Linked DNA regions of Homo sapiens: region 1 is linked to region 2. The links come from fine-mapping of genetic effects on gene expression. Tissue or cell type: whole blood. Region 2 holds a variant in brackets; the other region holds the start of a gene. All regions are shown on one strand. Distances are from middle to middle.

What was found. PIP is the estimated chance that this variant, and not a neighbour inherited with it, causes the effect.
Region 1: FAM13A starts here. The variant in region 2 is fine-mapped to the expression of FAM13A in whole blood (TOPMed, PIP above 0.99).

What each region holds. Positions count from the first base shown.
Region 1 is chr4:89,053,277-89,061,375 of GRCh38, reverse strand. FAM13A (family with sequence similarity 13 member A) reads left to right here and starts at 4,191. Exons shown (of 24, transcript NM_014883.4): 1 at 4,191-4,438. The coding sequence starts at 4,412. RefSeq lists an enhancer at 4,328-4,890.
Region 2 is chr4:88,878,801-88,886,908 of GRCh38, reverse strand. The region is part of intron 6 of FAM13A (family with sequence similarity 13 member A); the gene reads left to right. Among named protein-coding and RNA genes, the nearest start is that of FAM13A-AS1, 170 kb to the right of the region's middle. The variant G/T (reference allele first, on the strand shown) is at 4,365.

The sequences.
Region 1 (8,099 bases), 170 kb before region 2:
CAATAGTAGTGGAAGACTTTAACATCTCACTATCAGTATTAGACAGATCAAAGAGACAGAAAACTAACAAGGATATTCAGGATTTGAACTCAGCTCTGGATCAAGTGGACCTAGTAGATGTCTACAGAACTCTCTACCCCAAATAAACAGACTATAAATTGTTCTCAGTGCCACATGGCAATTATTCTAAAATTTACCATGTAATTGGAAGTAAAACACTCCTCAGCAAATGTAAAAGAACTGAAATCATAAACAGTCTCTCAGTGCAATCAAATTAGAACTCAGGATTAATAAACTCACTCAAAACCACACAATTTCATGGAAATTGAACAGCCTGCTCCTGAATGACTTCTGGGTAAATAATGAAATTAAGGCAGAAATTCAAAGAAGTTCTTTGAAACCAATGAGAACAAAGAACGTACCAAAATATCTGGGACACAGCTAAAGCAGTGTTAAGAGGGAAATTTATAGCACTAAATGCCCACATCAGAAAGCTACAAAGATCTCAAATTGACACCCTAACATCACAAAAGAGTTAGAGGCAAGAGGAAACTAATCCAAAAGCTAGCATAAGACAAGAAATAACTAAGATCAGAGAAGAATTGAAGGAGATAGAGACACAAAAAACCCTCCAAAAAAATAAATCCAGAAGATTGGTTTTTTTTGAAAAAATTAACAAAATAGATAGACTGCTGGCTAGACTAATAAAGAAGAAAACAGAGAAGGAAGAATCAAATAGACCCAATAAAAAAATGATAAAAGGGATATCACCACTGATCCTACAGAAATACAAACTACCATCAGAGAATACTACAAACACCTCTATGCAAACAAACTAGAAAATTTAGAAGAAATGATTAAACTCCTGGATGCATACACCTTACCAAGACTGAACCAGGAAGAAGTTGAATCCCTGCATAGACCAATAACAAGCCTGAAACTGATGTAGTAATTAATAGCTTACCAACCAAAAAAGCCCAGGACCAGATGGATTCACAGCTGAATTCTACCAGAAATACAAAGAGGAGCTGGTACCATTCCTTCTGAAACTATTCTAAACAATTTAGAAGGAGGGACTCCTCCTTAACTCATTTTATGAAGCCAGCATCATCCTGGTACCCAAACTGGGAAGAAACACAACAACCACAAAAAAACTTCAGGCCAATACCATAGATGAACATTGATGTGAAAAATCCTCAGTAAAATACTGGCAAACTGAAACCAGCAGCACATCAAAAAACTTATCCACCATGATCAAGTCGGCTTCATCTCTGGGATGCAAGGCTGGTTCAACATACACAAATCAATAAATATAATCCATCACATAAACAGAACCAAAGACAAAAACCACATGATTATCTCAACAGATGCAGAAAAGGCCTTTGATAAAATTCAACATCCCTTCATGTTAAAAACTCTCAATAAACTAGTTATTGATGGAACAGATCTCAAAATAATAAAAGCTATTTATGAGAGATCCACAGCCAATATCATATTGAATGGGCAAAAGCTGGAAGCATTCCCTTTGAAAACTGGTACAAGACAAGGATGCCCTCTCTCACCACTTGTATTCAACATAGTATTGGAAGTTCTGGCCAAGGCAATCAAACAAGAGAAAGAAATAAAGGGTATTCAAATAGGAAGAGAAGAAATCAAGTTATCTCTGTTTGCAGACGACTTGATTTTATATTTAGGAAGCCCCATCATCTCAGCCCCAAAACTTCTTGAACTGATAAGGAACTTCAGCAAGGTCTCAGGATACAAAATCAATGTATAAAAATCACAAGCATTCATTTACACCAACAATAGGCAAGCAGAGAGGCAAATCATGAATGAACTCCCATTCACAATCGCTACAAAGAGAATAAAATACATAGGTATACAGCTATCAAGGGATGTGAAGGACCTCTTCAAGGAGAACTACAAACCACTGCTCAAGGATATAAGAGAGAACACAAACAAATGGAAAAACATTCTATCCTCGTGGATAGGAAGAATCATGATCATGAAAATGGCCCTACTGCCCAAAGTAATCTATAGATTCAATGCTATTCCCATCAAACTACCATTGACATTCTTCACAGAATTAGAAAAACTATTTTAAATTTCATCCAGAATCAAAGAAGACCCCATATAGACAAGACAATCCTAAGCAAAAAGAACAAAGCAGGAGGCATCATGCTACCTGACTTCAAACTATACTACAAGGCTACAGTAACCAAAACAGCACAGTACTGGTACCAAAACAGACATACAGACCAATGGAGCAGAACGGAGACCTCAGAAATAACACCACATGTCTACAACAATCTAATCTTCGTCAAATCTGACAAAAAACAAGCAATGGGAAAATGATCTCCCATTCAGTAAATGGTCCTGGGAAAACTGGCTAGTTATATGCAAAAAACTGAAACTGGACCCCTTCCTTAGACCTTATACAAAAATTATCTCAAGATGGATTAAAGACTTAAATGTAAAACCCAAAACTATAAAAACCCTAGAAGAAAACCTAGGCAATACCATTCAGGGCATAGGCATGGGCAGAGACAAAAATGCCAAAAGCAATGGCAACAGAAGCCAAAATTGACAAATGGGATCTAATTAAACTAAAGAGCTTTTGCACAGCAAAAGAAACTATCATCAGAGTGAACAAGCAGCCTACAGAATGGGAGAAAATATTTGCAAACTATGCATCTGACAAAGGTCTCATATCCAGAATCCATAAGGAACTTAAACAAATTTACAGGAAAAAGACAAACTACCCCATCAAAAAGTGGGCAAAGGATATGAACAGACACTTCTCAAAAGAAGACATTTATGTAGCCAACAAACCTATGAAGAAAAGCTCACCATCACTGATCATCAGAGAAATGCAAATCAAAACCACAATGAGATACTATCTCGAGCCAGTTAGAATGGCAATTATTGAGAAGTCAGGAAACAACAGATGCTAGAGAGGATGTGGAGAAATAGGAACGCTTTTACACTGTCCGTGGGAATGTAATTAGTTCAACCATTGTGGAAGACAGTATGGAGATTCCTCAAGGATCTAGAACCAGAAATACCATTTGACCCAGCAGTCCCATTACTGGGTATATACCCAAAGGAGTATAAATCATTCTGCTATAAAGACACATACACACATATGTTTATCGCAGCACTGTTTACAATAGCAAAGACATGGAACCCACTCAAATGCCCATCAATGATAGACTGGATAAAGAAAATGTGGTACATATACACCATGGAATACTATGCAGCCATAATAAGGAACAAGATCATGTCTTTTGCATGGACATGTATGAAGCTAGAAGCCGTCATCCTCAGCAAACTACCACAGGAACAGAAAACCAGACACCACATGTTCTCACTCATAAGTGGGAGTTGAACATTGAGAACACATGGACACAAAGGGGAAACAACACACATCAGGGCCTGTTGGGAGGTTGGGGGTGAGGGGAGAGAACTTAGAGGATGGGTCAATAGGTACAGCAAAAGAAAAAAGAAAAACAAATTGACAGAAAAAATGGTAACAAAAATAAAAATAGGATAGTTTCCTTTTGGCTTACCTGAAGTGGCTATTTTAGCTATTAGTTCAAATATTTGTAAATTTTAAAATCTATCAAATTTTCTAGTGACAGCATGTGGAAGAGAAAGTTATTGAAAAGTCAGTTAGCTAATTTTTCAGACTGCAAATCACATATGTAGAATTATGGTTGTCTAGAAGTATGTTGTTTATGTTTATCATCAGTATATTTTTATAAGACAACTCATACATAATTAGAAGTAGTAACGGCTACATAAAATAGAGCATTTTCATTTAAAACAATTCTGATGGGGTAGCATGGAAGGAAGAAAATTTTGGTAGAATTTAGCTGGTTTCTAAGGAAGAGTAGAAGAGAAAACTGCCTCAGAAAAAATGAATAATGTGCCTGCAGTTTTAAACCTGAGTCTGAATACGTACATTTTGCTTAGAGCTGTGTGGAATCTGGGAAGCAAGTCTGTGTTTTCACTTTATGCACTGTTGGTTCTATTAATGAAAGCCACCAGGTGACTGGCAGTTTTCGGAGTCAAAGAAGCCTGTGTGTAGGATCTAGGGAGTCAGGTTTGAAAAAAAGATGTCAGCGACTTAAGACCCGTGTCACGTGACTCCCTCTACTTGCCAGCACTGAGGCTGTGGATCAAATTTCAACTCCAGGCAGTCCTTCCAGCCATGTGGGTTCAGCGGAAAGAGAAGCAAAACCACTCTTCCTAAAATGTTAGAAGCTGCTCTTCGCTTACCTTGGGGCCTTTGCATTGGGAGCTGTTTTTCACATCAAAGAATATGTGCTGAATGGAATTTTAGTATTTTGCTGTCGTTTTAATATTTTCGTCTGGTCTTCCTCAGTTCTTCCAGACGCTTTCTGAGAGAATGGGGGCAGGAGCTCTAGCCATCTGTGTAAGTATAGGCCTTCTTCTGTCTTCTGTGTTTACTGCCAGTTTTTAGGAGAGGGCCTTGCCTTCCTTGTTTTGATGAGATGTTTGTGTAACTTATTTTTCCTTCCCAGGAGGTGGGGAAAGATTTGTTACTTAAATTCCTATCTACTTAAATGGGTATTAGGCAGGATTTGGGATGGCATTCAGCATATTTGTGCACTTTAGTTTCCAAAAAAGGTGAAAGATGCATGCTGATTTATTCCGTTAAGTCAACTTGATTTAAAGTAGAGCACTTTCAAGCATTTTAGACTTTCTTGTCCCTGAATAGTTAAACATGAATGCTTCATTATAGCTATTAGAGAAATCTTGTGGCTAGCTTGAGGAGGAATTGAAGTAACCATTAATTTATTACTTTTGAGTATGTGTGTGACATTTTTCTGTTTTATATTTCTATTTTCGTTTAGTAATTCTGGAGTTTCTGTTTCAGCATGATTGCTGAAAGTGATGGTGGAGAAGCTCAGTTGATAAATGTTTGTGTATCCTTAAACTGTAGAAATGAATGGTTGTTATAACACAGTAGCATTAATAAATAACACTGAAATAAAATCCTTGGGAAAATGTGCATATTTCTGGAGTTTTAGAATTTTTAGAATTTATGAATTTCTAAATTATTCTGCTGGTGCTTGTACAAAACCTTTTGTAATAATCAAAAATTGTCAATTATATAATTTGCAGAATGCTGTAATTTAAATTTTGATTGTACTATATAGAAAATGCATATATCTGTATGAGAATTACACATATTTATGTTTCAAGTTGCTATTGTATTCCATAGGGACATTTTATTTTCTAGAATGTATTAAATGAGAAATATCTTCTTCCTTATTATCACCTTAACTGCTCACTTAAAAAATCACACTCAGGCCAGATCCTCTTTTTTTGTGTGTGTTTCAGAAAGAGCTGCAATTTGCTGTAGCTTCTGATGGCATTCTGAAGTGTTTAGAAATATCTGAGCAATTTTTGACACACAGACACCAAATGGTCACCAAATGGTCACCAAATGGTAGACCAGCCCTATAGATTAAGTTTTCTTAGTGAAACTGCAGGATGACCTTGTTTCCAGGCTCAAAACTTTTCAGCACCATGTATGTCACTCTGTCTTCCTTTTAACTCTGAGGCTTAGTAGCATCCAGGTATCCATGTGGTTATTCTTTTTTTATCACCCCAAAGAGTTTCCTTCAAAATCTGATTTATCTATGTGTAAAATACTGACTTTTACTTTACTGCAGAGGTGGCCCTTCTATTTTTCTAGCTTTATAAAAGAAACAATACAGAACTGAAAATGTGTAGAATGAGGCAGCAGATAGGTCATGAAGATTGGTAGTCATCTCTGATTGTCTGATTAGATCTTTACTTCTTTCCCTTGACCTGCAATATATTGATCTCTACCTTGACTGGAATGCACACTGACTCATGTATAAAACTTTATATTTTCCCTTAATTTATATCCAAAGCATGTATAAAATTTCAGTTAAAGTTGACATAAAAATCACACAGTGTAAGAGATTATTCACTCTGGTAGATGAGTAATTCTCAATCATTTCTACCCTTCTCCTTAAGGTTGGCCTTTGATTGTGCTGTCTTGGTTTTACTGTAGGAGGAAATACATTTTCAACAGTTGTACCATAGCATATCTGGAAAAAGATAGCTTTTGGAGAACAACAAAAAAAATTTTAAACATCGTGACAAAAAAGGGAGAACTAAGTCACACATTAATACATTCAATGAGCTGATACACTACTTTTTACTTTGTGTAGGAGTGAAGAGAAAGCTTTTCCTCTGCCCTTTCTGCAATTTTATTGAAACAATTGGCAATAGATTAATAGGAGAAAAAGAGTTACAAATTTATTAATATGTATATGGATATGAGAGCCCCTCAAATATGAGATTCAAAGAAGGGCCAGGTGGTTGAAGCTTAAATGCCTTCTTTTTGGGGAAGAGAGAAGTAGGGAGCTGCAGGTAATTTTAGAGAGGTAGTAAATAATTTTTAAAGTGAATGAATGGGTTCAAAGAGCATGGCCTGGGACAGCGTTTCCCTGAGCTATGGTGAGGTGGTGGAAAGGTGAGGGGTGGAATGAAGGTTGTGTTTTTATGCAGATAAAGTCTCCCAGCCAATCTCTTGGAGCTGTCCTCAGAAGAATAGATGAAAAGTCAGTGTGGATATGGTGACAGCTTTTAGTCTCTTTTCTGATGGTTAATTTTTCATGGTTATTTGATGAGATTCTCAGGAAGTAGATCTTAAGACAATTGCATTTCTTTTGGAAAGAAGCTTCCTTAATCAGATAAGGAAATTCCAGAGAGAGTCACTCTCAGTGCTTTAGGAAAGAAAAAGAGAGACTGAGGGAGGGCAGGAGAGTGGAAAGGCAGAGAGAGACCTTGGTTCTGAGGCTTATTTCTGAGACATTTTAATTAAAAATACCCAGCATGCCAAAGCACCATATTTTGGGGTATAGCTTTTTGAACCCCAACATTTAGGACTTACATACTTATACATATATGTAGCAACTACTGAAATATCCTGCTGCTGAAGACATTAATACTTCAGACAGTATAATGAGTACTAGATATCTGTAGTACGTACGTGTGTGTGTGTGTGTGTGTCTGTGTGTATCTTTGTGTGTCTGTATGTGTGTGTGGACTCTTGAAGTGGGACACAAATTGGTTCCAATAAACTCAGTTTCTATGTCCATTGACTAACCTACTTTATCTTCCTCATTTCTTTTCTTTTTTAAACTCTTTGCCATGTTGTTAGTGTTAAGAAATTTTGCTGCTCATGATACTGTTGTAGGCTCAAAAATGTATTGCCAATCATGTGTACAAAGAAAATTTAGCTGCTTTACTGTAACAAATCTATTTTATTTTCAGTAAACCACCTATTCTGAGGTGGTGTAGGGAATTACAGTTGCCAGTTCATGTTATTTTAGTCTCTTCTAATTTTAAATGTCACTTTTGGATGATTCTGTTTCTCTCAGGTGAATCCTGAGTCAGATTTTCTGCTTCTCCTGCTGTTCTATCCAATGTGGCATCAGGATATATTAAAGATTGGTGGGCTGAAAGTGGGAGTTTGCATATTCTAGTGGATGAAGAAGGAGGAGTTGAAATGCATGTGTAGATTCTTATACTCTGGATATTATGATTTCTGGTGAATTTAGGTCTCAAATCTATGACTGGTCAATTTGTGAATTGGTTCTCTTGGTAATATCAGTGCCTAACAGTCCACCCCACCTGATTTGTCCCCAGTTCATGCTGGTGCTGATAATTTCAAGAATGCCCCAGGCCTCGTAGCCTTTCTCTCTAACTTGGGGACCTCTGCTTCTGTAGTCTTACCGCCTGGTACCATCAACTACCTTCCATGTATCCCATAGCGCAAGCAGGAACGTACAGTCGCGTTACAGAAAGGTCATATACCAAATTAAAATATGCCATTCATGGGATTTATTGAATCAACTTAAATCACAGCAAGAAGAAAGAGGAAAAGGATGAGGTTAGGTTTATCTTCTTTGACAGGGCTTAAGTGGGAAGAAAGGACCACACTCCCTGAATTCTGTGTTATTTAACGTTCAAATGTCCTGTTGCTCTTGCCTTCTGTGCCACATCAGCCTTTCCTGATCATGGTAATTATC
Region 2 (8,108 bases):
TGAGATAGAGTTTCACTCTTGTGGCCCAGGCTGGAGTGCAATGGCATGATCTCAGCTCACTGCAACCTCCACCTCCCGGGTTCAAGTGATTCTCGTGCTTCAGCCTCCCGAATAGCTGGGATTACAGGCATGCGTCACCATGCCCAGCTAATTTTTGTATTATTAGTAGAGACGGGGTTTCACCATGTTGGCCAGGCTGTTCTCAAACTCTTGACCTCAAGTGATCCACCCACTTCAGCCTCCCAAAGTGCTGGGATTATAGGCGTGAGCCACTGCACCAGGCCTATATACCATAATTTCTTTCTTTTTTTTTTCTTTTTAAGATGGAGTCTCACTCTTGTCATCCAGGCTGGAGTGCAGTGGTGCGATCTTGGCTCACTGCAACCTCTGCCTCCTGGGTTCAAGCAATTCTCCTGCCTCAGCCTCCTGAGTAACTGGGACTACAGGTGCATGCCACCACGCCTGGCTAATTTTGTAATTCTAGTAGAGATGGGGTTTCACCATGTTGGCCAGGCTGGTTTCAAACTCCTGACCTCAGGTGATCTGCCTGCCTCGGCCTCCCAAAGTGCTGGGATTACAGGTGTGAGCCACCACACCCAGCCACCAAAATTTCTTTATCCACTCGTTGATTGATAGGCATTTGGGCTGGCTCCATATTTTTGCAATTGCAAATTGTGCTGCTATAAACATGCGTGTGGAAGTATTACTTTTGTTTAATGATTTATCTTCCTCTGGGTAGATACCCAGTAGTGGGATTGCTGGATCAAATGGTAGATCTACTTTTAGTGCTTTAAGGAATCTCCACACTGTTTTCCATAGTAGTTGTACTAGTGTTCATTCCCACCAGCAGTGTAAAAGTGTTCCATTTTCACCACATCCATGCCAACGTCTATTTTTTTTTTTTATTTTTTGCTTATGGCCATTCTTGCAGGAGTAAGGTGGTATCACGTTGTGGTTTTGATTTGCATTTCCCTGGTCATTAGTGATGTTGAGCATTTTTTCATATGTTTATTGGCCATTTGTATATCTTCTTTTGAGAATTGTCTATTCATGCCTTTAGCCCACTTTTTGATGGGATTGTGTGATTTTTTTTTTTTTTTGCTAATTTGTTTGGATCCTTGTATATTCTGGATATTAGTCCTTTGTCAGATGTATAGATTACAAAGATTTTCTCCCACTCTGTGGGTTGTCTGCTTACTCTGCTGATTGTTTCTTTTGCTGTGCAGAAGCTTTTTAGTATAATTAGGTCCCATCTATTTATCTTTGTTATTGTTGCATATGCTTTTGGGTTCTTGGACATGAAGTCTTTGCCTAAGCCAATGTCTAGAAGGGGTTTTCCAGTGTCACCTTCTAGAATTTTTGTGGGCTCAGGTCTTAGATTTAAGTTTTTGATCCATCTTGAATTGATTTTTGTAAAAGGTGAGAGATGAGGATCTGGTTTCATTCTTCTACATGTGGCTTGCCAATTATCCCAGCACTATTTGTTGAGTAGGGTGTCCTTTCTCCACTTTATCTTTTAGTTTGCTTCATTGAAGATCCATTGGCTGTATTTGGCATTATTTCTGGGTTCTCTATCCTGTTTCATTGGTCTATGTGCCTATTTTTATACCACTACTATGCTGTTTTGGTGACTATGGCCTTATAGTATAGTTTGAGGTTGGGTAATGTGATGCCTCTAGATTTGTTCTTTTTGCTTAGTTTTGGATTGGCCATTCAGGCTCTTTTTTGGTTCCTTTGGTTCCATATGAATTTTCAGATTTTTTTTTCTGGTTCTGTTAAGAACAATTGGTGGTATTTTGATGGGAATTACATTGAATTTGTAGATTGCTTTTGGCAGTATGGTCATTTTCACAATATTGATTCTACCTATCCAAGAGAAGAGGATGTGTTTCCATTTGTTTGTGCCATCTATGATTTCTTTCAGCAGTGTTTTGTAGTTTTCCTTGTAGAGGTCTTTCACCTCCTTGTTTAGATATATTCCTAAGTATTTGATTTTATTTTTTTACAGCTATTCTAAAAGGGGTTGAGTTCTTGCTTTTATTCTCAGTTTGGTTGCTGTTGGTGTATAGCACAGCTACTGATTTGTGTGCATTAATTTTGTTTCCTGAAACTTTGCTGAATTCATTTATCAGTTCTAGGAGCTTTTTGGAGGACTCTTTAGGGTTCTTAGATATACAATCAGATCATCAGCAAACAGCGACAGTTTGATTCCTCTTCAGCAGTTTGGTTCCGCTTTCTTTCTTTCTCTTGTCTAATTGCTCTGGCTAGGACTTCCAGTACTATGTTGAATAGAAGTGAAGAGAGTGGGATCCTTGTCTTGTTTCAGTTCTTAGGGAGAATGCTTTCAACTTTTCCTCATTCAGTATAATGTTGGCTGTGGGTTTGTCCTAGATGGTTTTATTACGTTAAGGTATGCCTCTTCTATGCCAGTTTTGCTGAGGGTTTTAATAATAAAGCGATGATGGATTTTGTCAAATACTTTTTGTGCCTCTATTGAGCTGATCATGTGATTTCTGGTTTTAATTCTGTTTATGTGGTGTATCACATTTATTGACATGCATATGTTAAGCCATCTCTGCATCCCTGGTGTGAAACCCACTTGATCATAGTGGGTTATCTTTTTGATATGCTGTTGGATTTGGTTAGCTTAAGGATTTTTGCATCTGTGTTCATCAGGGATATTGGTCTGTTGTTTTCTTTTTTTTGTTATGTCCTTTCCTGGTTTTGGTATTAGGGTGATACTGGCTTCATAAAATGATATTGGGAGGATTCCTTCCTTCTCTATCTTGTGGAATAGTGTCAATAGGATTGGTACCAATTCTTCTTTGAATGTCTGACAGAATTCAGCTGTAAATCCATCTTTTCCTGGACTTTTTTTTTGGCAATTTTTAATTAGCATTTCAATCTTGCTGCTTGTTATTCATCTGTGCAGAGTTTCTAGTTCTTCCTAGTATAATCTAGGAGGGTTGTCTGTTTCCAGAAATTTATCCATCTCCTCTTGGTTTTCTAGTTTATGTGTGTAAACGTGTTTATCGTAGCCTTCAATGATCTTTTGTATTTCTGTGGTAATTTCAATTGTAATACCTCTCGTTTCATTTATAATTGAACTTATTTGGATCTTCTCTCTTTTTGTGGTTAGTCTCACTAATGGTCTATCAATTTTATTTATGTTTTGAAAGAACCAGGTTTTTGTTTCATTTATCTTTTGTATTTTTGTTTGTTTCTATTTCATTTAGTTCTGCTCTGATCTTCATTATTTCTTTTCTTCTGCTGGGTTTGAGTTTAGTTTGTTCTTGTTTCTCCAGTTCCTTGAGGTGTGACCTTAGATTGTCTCTTTGTTCTCTTTCAGACTTTTTGATGTAGGCATTTAAGGCTATGAACTTTCCCCTTAGCACCACCTTTGCTGTATTACAGAGGTTTTGATAGGTTGTGTCACTATTATCATTGAGTTCAATGAATTTTTTAATTTCCATCTTGATTTCATTGTTGGCCCAATGATCATTCAGGAGCAGATTGTTAAATTTCCATGTATTTGCATGGTTTTGAAGGTTCTTTTGGAGTTGATTTCCAATTTTATTCCACTGTGGCTTGAGAGCATACTTGATATATTTCAATCTTCTTAAATTTACTGATACTTGTTTTGTGGCTTATCGTGTGGTCTATCTTGGAGAATGTTCCATGTGTTGATGAATAGAATGTATATTCTCTAGTTGTTTAGTAGAATGTTCTGTAAATATCTTTTAAGTCTATTTGTTTTAAGGTATAGTTTAAATCCAGTGTTTCTTTGTTAACTTTCTGTCTTGATGACCTGTCTAGTCCTGTCAGTGGAATATTGAAGTCTCTGACTATTATTGTATTGCTGTCTATCTTATTTCTTAGGTGTAGTAGTAATTATTTTATAAATTTGGGAGCTCCAGTGGTAGATACATTTATATTTAGGATTGTGATATTTTCCTGTTGAACAAGTCCTTTAATCATTATATAATGTCCCTCTGTCTTTTTTAACTGCTATTGCTTTAAAGTTTGTTTTGTCTGATATAAGAATAGCTACTCCTGCTTGTTTTGTTGTCCATTTGCATTAAATATCTTTTTCCAACCCTTTACATTAAGTTTATGTGAGTCTTTATGTGTTAGGTGAGTCTCTTGAAGATAGCAGATAGTTGGTTGGTGAATTCTTATCCATTCTGCCATTGTGTGTATTTTAAGTTGAGCATTTATGCCATTTACATTCAACATTAGTATTGAGATGTGAGGTACTGTTCTATTCATCATGCTGTTTGTTGCCTGAAGACCTTGTTTTTTTTTTTTCCATTGTGTTTTTGTTTTGTAGGTGGTATGAGATTTATGCTTTAAGGAGGTTCTAT[G/T]TTGGTATATTTTCAAAATTTAGAGCTCCTTTTAGCCTTTCTTGTAGTGCTGGCTTGGTAGTGGTGAATTATCTCAGCATTGTCTGAAAAAGATTGTATTGTCTGAAAAAGACAATACAGCATTGTCTGAAAAAGTCCGTAACTTTCCTTCCTTTATGAAGCTTAGTTTCACTGGATACAAAATTCTTGGCTGATAATTACTTTGTTTAAGCAGTCTAAAGATAAGCCCCAATCCCTTCTAGCTTGTAGGGATTCTGCTGAGAAATCTGCAGTTAATCTGATAGGTTTTCCTTTAGAGGTTAACTAATGCTTTTGCCTCACAGCTCTTAATTTTCTTTCCTTCATCCTGACTTTAGATTACCTTATGATTATGTGCCTAGGTGATGATCTTTTCATGATAAATTTCCCAGATGTTCTTTGAGATTCTTGTATTTGGATATCTAGATCTCTAGCAAGGCCAGGGAAGTTTTCCTCGGTTATTCCCTCAAATATGTTTTCCCAAGTTTTAGATTCATCATCTTCCTCGGGAACAACAATTATGGTTAGGTTTGGTCATTTAACATAATCCCAAAATTATTGAAGTCTTTTTTCATTTTTTTTAAATTCTTTTTTCTTTGTCTCTGTTGGATTGAGTTAATTTGAAAGCCTTTACTTTGACCTCTGAAATTCCTTCTTCTACCTGTTTGATTCTATCGCTGACACGTTCCAGTATATTTTACATTTCTCTAAGTGTGTCCTTCATTTCCAGAAGTTGTGATTGTTTTTTATTTATGCTATCTATTTCACTGAAGATTTTTCCCTTCATATGTTATATCATTTTTTTTGTTTCATTAAGTTAGACTTCACCTTTCTGTAGTGCCTCCTTGATTAGCTTATTAATCAACCTTCTGAATTCTTTTTCTGGCAATTCAGAGATTTCTTCTTGTTTTGGATCAATTCCTGGTGAGCTAGCATGATCTCTTGGGGGTGTTAAAGAACCTCGTGTTGTTATATTACCAGAATTGTTTTTCTGTTTCCTTCTCATTTGGGTAGACTATGTCAGAGGGAAGATCTGGAGCTCAAGGTCAGCTGTTTATATGCTTTTTTCCCATGGGGTGTTCCCTTGATGTGGTGCTCTCCCCCTTCCCCTAAGGATGTGGCTTTCTGAGAGCTGAACTGCTGTGATTGTTACTCCTTTTCTGGATCTAGCCACCCAGTGGAGCTACCAAGCTCCAGGCTAGTACTGGGAGTGTCTGCACAGAGTCCTGTGATGTGAACTGTTTTTAGGTCTCTCAGACATGGATACGAGCCCCCACTTAAGTGAAAGTAGCAGGAGAGTGAAGTGAGCTCTGTGAGAGTCCTTAGTTGTAGTTTTGTTTATTGGGCTAGTTTTATTTGGTTGGCTTCCAGCCAGGAGGTGGCAGTTTCAAGAGAGCATTAGCTGTGGCAGTATAGGGAGGATTAGGCGGTGGGCAGCGCCATAGAGCTCCCAAGAAATTATGTCCATTGTCTTCAGCTACCAGGGCTGGTGGAGAAAGACCATCAGGTGGGGGCAGGGTTAGGCTCAGACTCTTCTTGGGCGGGACTTGCTGTGGCTGCTGTCGGGGATAGGGGCATGGTTCTCAGGCCAATGGAGTTATGTTCCTAGGGGAATTATGGCTGCCTCTGCTGCCTCATTCAGGTCCCCAAGGGAGTGGGGAAAAGCCAGCAGTTACAGGCCTCACTCACCTCCCACGCAGCCCAAAAGGCCAGTCTCACTCCCACTGTGCCCCCCCCCCCCCCGCCCCCCACCGCACCACCCGCAACAGCTCTGAGTTTATTTCCAGGCAGCTGCTAAACAGGGCTGAGAATTTGCCCCAGGCTGCCAGCCTCCCGGCTGAGAAAGCAAGCAGGGCTTTCATGGTTTGCACCTCCCCACCTGCCATGGCTTCTGTGCTGTGTCTGCACTCCTGATTCCAATGCCCCCTTCCTCAGATTCTGTCCAGGAAACTCTGCGTTCGGTGGAAATTGTTGTGAAGTTCAGCTAGAAGGTTCCTTCTCCCTGTGGTTTTTTTTCCCAGTTCCTTTGGCAGTCCTGCCCAAGGACCCCTATGAGACAAAGTCAGAAATGGCTTCCCTGTGGACCAAGAGTGCCCACAGAGCTCTTCCTGCTGCTTCCTCTACTCTGATATTTCGCTTGGCTCTCTAAATTTGTCTCAGCTCCAGGTAAGGTCAAACCTTCTCCTGTCATCTGGACCTTCAGGTTTCCCAGTGAGGGTGTGTGTTCGGGGCTGGACGGTTCGCCTTTCACACTTTCACACTTTGGGCTCTCAGAATTTTTCAGCTGTCTCCTGGAGCCTACAGCAGCAATCCACTTCCTTCAAAGGGTCTGTGGCTTCTCTTGGCTTTCCTGCTATGTCCCTGTGGTAGTTCTAGGAGCAAAAGTTCACAGTGTGAGTCTCCACATGCTGCTCTCTCCTTCTAAGTCGGAGCTTCCCTTGGATTTTATATTTTCAGTATTCTAATTTATTAGAGAGGAATAATAATATATAATAATAATATAGGTAGGTGTGACTTAAGTATTTACTCTATGCTAAACACTGAAAAATACTTCTCATATTACTTCATTAAATGCTCACAACACTATAGAATAAAAATTCAGCCTGAATAGTCTTGGTTATACTTCAGTAATAAACAATCCCATTATCTTAATGGCTTAAGACAACATTTTTTTTTCTTGCTCATGCTGCCTGCCCAATTTAGATTAACAGGGAGACTCTGCTCTTGCTGGTCACTCAGGCACCTGGCCTGACAGAGCAGCCCCTCGCAAATGTAACCAGTTATTGTACCCAAGGAAAAGGAAAGAGTTCTGTAGGACCTTGCAGTAACAATGAAATGCTCTGGTGGTCCAGAAGTAACTCCATTCCTTCTGCTCAGAACCCATTGGCCAGAGCTAATCACATGCCGCACCTCCATCCCCAGGCCCACAATCAGACAGTGAGTACAACCCTAGGATGTGCCTAGAAGGAAGGATGGCTTTACCAGTATTTGGTGAACAGCAGTAACATTCTACCATATTTTCCTTCTTCTTTTTTTTTTAATAGGTAAGAAAGCAGGCTTAGAGAGACTAGTTAACTTAACCAAGATTGTGCATATAATACATATCAGATATATTTGATGCTAAAGCATGAACTCTTTACCCTTATATTACTTCCCACTTTTCTAGTCTTATATGCTATAGCATGTTATACTACCTGCTTTGCAGAGTTTTTGTGAGAATCAAAGATACTAATAATAGATGTAAATAATTGGGTGTACTGCCTGGAACTTAGTAAGCATCTAGGGATTAGTGAAAGGGTCTTTTTTGTTCTTACCTCTTAACCTGTGTCTCACAGCGTTTCTTAAGTGCTAAAGCTCTATATTGCTTTTATAGTGGCTGTATTAATTGTTCTCCATCATGACAGCAGCTATTCTCAGCTACCAATATTAGATGTGTTTTATATATAAAGGTGTCTGATTGCACACAACTTATTCCCAACATTCATTCTAAAGACCGTTTTATATATCAACCATGCTGTTTAGAATATAGTTTCCTATCAGGCCAGCCTACCAAACTCACAAAGTAATTAGCTAAATAGACTTTAGTAGGATATCCTAGGAATCTAACACCTTACCTACAATGTGGATATTGCTGTGGAAAATTACATGTTGAGTTTCATACTATCAGGCTCCATAAGTTTGTACTTTGTGCTCATTGTGATAACAGATGTTTATTCAGTCCCCTAC